Linked DNA regions of Homo sapiens. Each later gene encodes a partner of the first gene's protein in a complex. Each region holds a gene or a part of one and is shown on either strand. Other genes may lie near its edges.

What was found.
Region 2: EIF3CL (region 1) and EIF3D share a complex: the UniProt entries of both Homo sapiens proteins name them as parts of the eukaryotic translation initiation factor 3 (eIF-3) complex.

The regions. Positions count from the first base shown.
Region 1 is NC_000016.10:28,393,834-28,397,414, reverse strand, and holds part of EIF3CL (eukaryotic translation initiation factor 3 subunit C-like protein), read left to right. Parts: intron 1-3,123; exon of another isoform or gene 3,124-3,141; intron 3,142-3,581. UniProt on the Homo sapiens protein: Component of the eukaryotic translation initiation factor 3 (eIF-3) complex, which is required for several steps in the initiation of protein synthesis.
Region 2 is NC_000022.11:36,512,165-36,515,745, reverse strand, and holds part of EIF3D (eukaryotic translation initiation factor 3 subunit D), read left to right. Parts: intron 1-3,143; coding exon 3,144-3,286; intron 3,287-3,581. UniProt on the Homo sapiens protein: mRNA cap-binding component of the eukaryotic translation initiation factor 3 (eIF-3) complex, a complex required for several steps in the initiation of protein synthesis of a specialized repertoire of mRNAs.

The sequences.
Region 1 (3,581 bases):
TCTCTACTAAAAATACAAAAAAATTAGCCCGGTGTGGTGGCCTGCGCCTGTAGTCCCAGCTACTCATGAGGCTAAGGCAGGAGAATTGCTTGAACCCGGGAGGCGGAGGTTGCAGTGTGCCGAGATCGCGCCATTGCACTTCAGCTTTGGGCAACAGAGCAAGACTCCGTCTCAGGAAAAAAAAAAAAAAAAAAAAAAAAGAGTGTCTCTTAAGCACAGCTAGGTTTTTGGTTTGTTTTTTTTTTAATCTCATAAAATCTCTGCTTTTTTTTTCTTTTATTGTGATACATAACATTTCCCATTTTAACCATTTTCAGGTATACAAATCAGTGGCATTTAGTACGTTCACATTGTGCAATGACCGCCAGAACTTGATCTCTGCTTCTCTGGCAATTTAGTTCATTTACGTTTATTATAGTTATTTACATATATATGATGGTTATTTATATATGTGTCTACATAATTAGTTTTTATCAAGATGGGGTCTTGCCCTGTTGCCCAGGATGGTCTCGAACTCCTGGGCTCGAGTAACCCTTCTGCCTGGGCCTCCTAAAGTGCTGGGATTACAGGCGTGAGCCACTGCGCCCAGCCTATTGTGGTTATCAATGCATTTATTCTTACCATTTTATGGTATCTTATACTTTCTGTTTATCCTCTTTATTTTAAATTTTGTAATAGCTTTATTGAGGTGTACATGACATACAATAACTGCACTTGTTTAAAGTTTTTTTTTTTTTTTTTTTTTTTGAGACAGAGTCTTGCACTGTCGCCCAGGCTGGAGTGCAGTGGTGCAATCTCGGCTCACTGCAAGCTCCACCTCCCGGGTTCACACCATTCTCCTGCCTCAGCCTCCTGAGTAGCTGGGACTACAGCCACCCGCCACCACGCCTGGCTAATTTTTTGTACTTTTAGTAGAGACAGGGTTTCACCATGTTAGCCAGGATGGTCTCGATCTCCTGACCTCGTGATCCACCCGCCTCGGCCTTCCACTAAGTGCTGGGATTACAGGCATGAGCCACCGCACCCAGCCTTAAAGTTAAATTTAATAAGTTGTGACATATGTTTACACCCATAGAACTCACCACAATCAAAACATAATATCCTAAAAATTTCACACCTAAACATTTCCACCTTCCCCTTTGTAATACTTCTCCCTGCCTCAGTTTCCTCACCCTATCCCTGGGCAACCACTAATTTGCTTTCTGTCACTAGGTAAGTTAGCATTTTCTAGAATTTTATGTAAATGGAATCAACGGTATATAATTTGGAGGGGGTAGTTTCTTTAATCATAATTATTTTGAAATTCATTCTGTCTTCTAAAGATTGGGCATCTCTAATTCCAAAGTCTGAAACTTCTGGAGCACCATAAGTGGACAATTCCACATCTGACCTCATGTGACAGGTTGCAGTCAAAACTTTGTTTCATGCACAAAATTATTTAAAATACTATGTAAAATTGCCATCAGGCTGTTTGTATAAGGTGTAGATGAAACACACAAATTTCATAGTTAGACTTGGAGCCCTTCCCAAGATACCCCATTATATATATGCAATTATTTGAAATTTGAAACACTTCTGGTTCTAAGCATTTCAGATAAGGGATATTCAGCCTGTATTTTATTTTTCTTTTATTTGTGTGTTTTTTGTTTTTGTTTTTGAGAAGGAGTCTCACTGTGTTGCCCCGGCTGGAATGCAGCGGTGCAATCCTGGCCCACTGCAACCTCTGCCTCCTGGGTTCAAGTGATTCTCAGGCCTCAGCCTCCTGGGTAGCTGGGACTACACGTGAGCACCACCACGCCCAGCTAATTTTTATATTTTTAGTAGAGATGAGGTTTCAGCATGTTGGCCAGGCTGGTCTTGAACTCCTGACCTTAGATGATTCGCTCGCCTCAGCCTCCCAGAGTACTGGGATTACAGGCATGAGCCACCACACCTAGCCTACATGTATTTTCTCATCCTCTTTTTTTTTTCCCCGTTTCTAGTTATATATATTTTCTTATTATTCATTTTGTTTTTTTCTGCTGGTTTGGGAGTTAGACGTGCTATGCTTTTAGAGGTTATTCTTGAATTTTTTTTTTTTTTTTTTTGAGACACTAGCCTGTTGCCGAGGCTAGAATGCAGTGAGTGGCGCAATCTCGGCTCACTGCAAGCTCCGCCTCCCGGGTTCACGCCATTCTCCTGCCTCAGCCTCCTGAGTAGCTGGGACTACAGGCACCTGCCACCATGCCCAGCTAAATTTTTTTGTATTTTTAGTAGAGACGGGGTTTCACTGTGTTAGCCAGGATGGTCTCGATCTCCTGACCTCGTGATCTGCCCACCTCAGCCTCCCAAAGTGCTGGAATTACAGGCGTGAACCACCGCACCCAGCCAAATTTTTTTTTGTTAACCTGTAAACTAACTTGTATACCTAATCAGAATAGTCTAAAATTAGTTGAATCAATGTTCTGAGGAAAACCCTTGAGAAAATAAAGTTAGAATTTCAAGTGTCAGAATCTTTTTGACATTGAGAGTTTGTGGCTTTGTAGTGTAGAAGAATAATTCACAGACACTATTTCACTTGTGTAACAAGGGAGACAGATTTTCAGATTAATTTCCAACCGAGCAAAAGCAGGATTTATATAGGAGAAAGAGGAACAAGGAGAGAGGGCAAAACCACAGAACAGTGGATTCTGTTTGCCCGTTTTTCTGTGTAAACTCTGATATTAACTCTCCTTGAGTATGCCACCCAGGGTTGGTGGATGCTCTAGAAAACACGATAGGCCCTCTGCCAGTAAGGGTTTTCAGCAACTCCAGATTCAGCCAGTCTAAATATACCCTTTCCATCATCAGCATTTCTCAGCCTTCATCTTTTGGTCAAAACAAGCTTGTAAAGGAGTGGGTTTATTCTCATGAGCTTCAGCCTCTTTGATGTGGGATAAGGCCATCTGTTGTCTTATGGTGATCTGAAGGTATTAGGGGGAAGTTCATCTATACCTGATGTCATGATTGACCTGTGAACTCTTTTTCTTTTTTTCTTTTTTTAGATGGAGTCTTGCTCTGTTGCCCAGGCTGGAGTGCAGTGGTGCAATCTCATCTCACTGCAACCTCCGCCTCCCTGGTTCAAGCAGTTCTCCTCAGCCTCCCAAGTAGCTGGGATTACAGGCACGTGCCACCACGCCTGGCTAATTTTTTGTATTTTTAGTAGAGACGGGGTTTCGCCGTGTTAGCCAGGATGGTCTCGATCTCCTTATCTCTTGATTGCCTGCCTCGGCTTCCCAAAGTGCTGGGATTACAGGCGTGAGCCACTGCGCCCAGCGACCTGTGAACTCTTACAGAGCTGCTGTCTACTTCTAAGAGTTACCTGATTCTGGAGGCGTTTTTTTGTTTTTGTTTTTGTTTTTTAAGTGAACCCCAGGATCTCTAGTGAGACTGAATGTCCGAGTTAGGATCCTAAGCAAGGGTATACATCTAGGGCTTTCCATCAGTAGTTGTGGTTGGGAAGGCATGGGAAAATGGTGTGGTCCTCTGCAGTGTAGTTAGGCCTGACTTCCGTTGGTGTCTCTCAATAATGAGTTTTTAGTCTCTTAACTATGTATTAAGTA
Region 2 (3,581 bases), on another chromosome or scaffold:
GTCTCACCCGTTTCCCTGTTCCGTTTGCATGTCGTCTTTGCTGGCTCCCCTCCTTTTTGATCCCAGTGGAGTCACCTGGACAGCTCTCTTCGCCATACATACTTCTGTATTATATAACTTTGTATTAGTTTTCTTTCGCACCATAACAAATTAACAGAAACTTAATGACTTAATACCGATTTATGTATTTTACTTTTATTTTTTATTTTATTTTTCTGAAACGGAGTTTCGCTCTTGTTGCCCAGGCTGGAGTGCAACGGTGCGATCTCGGCTCACTGCAACCTCTACCTCCCGGGCTCAAGCGATTCTCCTGCCTCAGCCTCCCGAGTAGCTAGGATTATAGGCATGCACCACCACACCCAGCTAATTTTGTATTTTTAGTAGAGATGGGGTTTCTCCATGTTGGTCAGACTGGTCTTGAAGTCCCGGCCTCAGGTGATCTGCCTGCCTCGGCCTCCCAAAGTGCTGGGATTACAGGCGTGAGCCACAGCACCCGGCCTAACAATACCAATTTATTAGCTCACGGTTTTGTAGGTTAGAAGTCCAGTGCTGTGTGCTTGGTCCTTGTATTAGTCCATTGTCACACTGCTGTAAAGAAATGCCTGAGAGTGGGTGATTTATAAAGAAAAGAGGTTTAATTGGCTCACAGTTCTGCAGGCTCTAGAGGAAGCGTGGCTGAGGAGACCTCAGGAAACTTGCAATGGTGGCAGAAAGCAAAGGAGAAGCAGGCACATCATGGCCAGAGCAGGAGAAAGAGAGGGGGGAGGTTGGTATACACTTTTAAACAACCAGATCTCTTGAATACTCTTACCACAAGAATAGTGCCAAAGGGGGAAGTCTGCCCCCATGATCCAGTCACCTCCCACCATGCTCCTCCTCCAACATTGGAGTTTACAATTTGACATGCAGTTTGGGTGGGGCCACAAATCCAAACAAGGCAGAAATCATGGTGTCAATAGAAATAGAACTGAGTTCTCATCTGGAGGTTCTGAAAGAAAAGCCACTTCCAAGCCCATTCTTATTGTGGGTAAAGTTCATTTCCCTGCAGTTAGATGACTGAGGCCCCCATCCCCCTGCCAGTTGTCAGCTGGGAGCCTCTCTTGGCTCCTAGAGGCCACCTGCATTCCTTGTCACATGGCCCCCTCCATCTCCAAGATAGCAACAGCACATCAGATCCTTCTTGTGCTTCAGATCTCTGACTTCCTCCGTCTCCGACCTCTACACCTAGATTTAAGAGACTCATACGGTTGGGTGAGCCCAGCCAGGTAGTGTATATTAAGGTAAACTGATTTGCGGCCTTACATCTGCAAAATCCCTTTTGACATACAAGGTAGGATGATCATGGGGGTGATACTTGATCCTAGCCATAGGTTCTGCCCGTAGTCAAGGGGAGGAGACTCTGCAAGGGCAAGGGTCACTGGGGGTCATCTTAGAATTCTGCCCATCCCAGGCCTCAACCATGAACTCTTTGAAAATGATTTCTCAAATCTACTCTGATTTATTATACTTCCCATTGTTTTTCTGCTAAAACACCTTCCCCTTCCATGTGTCCCCAGTCCCGTCATTGCCTCTGGGCCAGCTGTCCATCAGCATTGTCTTTCTTCCACCTAAGCTCTGAGCCTCCAACATCTCCAACTTCTTTTTTACATTATTCTGTTTTGCTGTTAGCAAAATAGAAGGCTTTGCTGTCTTCTGAATCTGTCCTGGATTTCACTGATAATTGCCCTAGTTCAGGGCCCCATTTCATCATGCCTGTTTGACATTTGTCTCCTAACTGATTTCTCTACCTCCACCCAACTTCTATATTTGATTTATCTCCGCCAGTCAATTGTCCAATACACGCTTCATCAGCAGTGCAGATTGGGAGAAGAATTCTAACATGCCCCAGCAAGCTGTATGCAGTAGTATGCACCTATAGTCCTAGCTACTCAGGAGCCTGAGGTGGGAGAATCGCTTGGGTTCATGAGTTCAAATCCTGAACTCACCAGCTTGGGCAACATAGTGAGACCCCATCTCCAAAAAATGTGCCACAGCAAACTCACAGGAGTGCTGCAGGATATTTTAAATTTTTTAGGGAAACACAGAGACATCTTGTCAGAATACTAATACATGGTTTGACCCTAACTAAATAAAAGGAATTCTTGGCCGGGCACGGTGGCTCACGCCTGTAATCCCAGCACTTTGGGAGGCCGGGGCGAGTGGATCACCTGAGGTCAGGAGTTCGAGACCAGCCTGGCCAACATGATGAAACCCCGTATCTACCAAAAATACAAAAATTGGCTGGACATGGTGGCGGGCACCTGTAATCCCAACTACTAGGGAGGCTGAGGTAGGAGAATCACTTGAACCCGGGAGGCGGAGGTTGCAGTGAGCCAAGATCGTGCCACTGCACTCCACCCTGGGCAACAAGAGCAAAACTCCGTCTCAAAAAAAAAAAGAAAAAAAATTTAAAAGAAATTCTTGAGTATTTCTTTTGCCCTGTGTTTGCCATGAACCAAGAAAGTTTGGGAACCTCTGTCATGTGACCTTTGACCAGTCATTTCACTCTGGGTCCAACTTCCCACGTCTACAAATGATATGGGTAGAAAAGAGGATCTCTCTGGGGTCCTTTTCTACTGTGTGTGCATTTATGTAAAATGTCAGACTCAGCTTTGCACCCACTGCAGGCTTCCACCCCCATCTAAGGCCAACTCTGCCTGTCTTTCCTATCCCACCATGCCTCTCAGATCAAGACCTCCTGGCTACACCTGCACTTGAGCCAATATTCTCCACTTGGCTCACTGTTACACGTCCTCTGTGAAGCCCTTCCTTACCACGCAACACATAGTAAACACTTGGCTCTGCTGTTTATATGACACTTCTAAAGTGTGTGTGTGTGTGTGTGTGTCCGTGTGTGTCCATCCATCATTCCCTGTCTAGGCGAGCTTTTAGAAGAGAGGAATTGTAAGTCGTTGAGTGACTGCTGTGCGGCAGGCTGTGCAAGGGAAGGGACTATGTCTTTGTCTCTTAAATGGTAAGATTTAGTGCGTACCTACCCACTTTCTAAGCAAGCAGACTAGGGAGTTCCTTCTCTGCCAGAGGAGGTCCCAGCACCTTGGGCATTTGGAGCTTGCTTCTGTTTCTCTAACGGGGCTCTCCTGCAGCACTGTAATGGCGTTGACTGGCGTCAGAAGCTGGACTCTCAGCGAGGGGCTGTCATTGCCACGGAGCTGAAGAACAACAGCTACAAGTTGGCCCGGTGGACCTGCTGTGCTTTGCTGGCTGGATCTGAGTACCTCAAGCTTGGGTGAGATTCCTGTGCAGGAGCTGGCAGCTGATCTTGTGAAAGGAAGGGTCTGGGTAGGGAGGTTGACCCTCCCCTCCCCGTGTACTGGACAATTGACTGGCAGAGATAAATCCAGGGGTGGGGTAGAGATGGAGGGGTCAGTTAGGAGACAAATGCCAAACAGCAGGCATGCTGAATGGAGTCCTGAACTAGGGCAATGGTGTCAATGAAATCCAGAACTGAGAACTCAGAAGACGATGTTTTCCCTTTCCCTTGAAAATAGCAGTGGACTGCCGGGCGCGGTGGCTCATGCCTG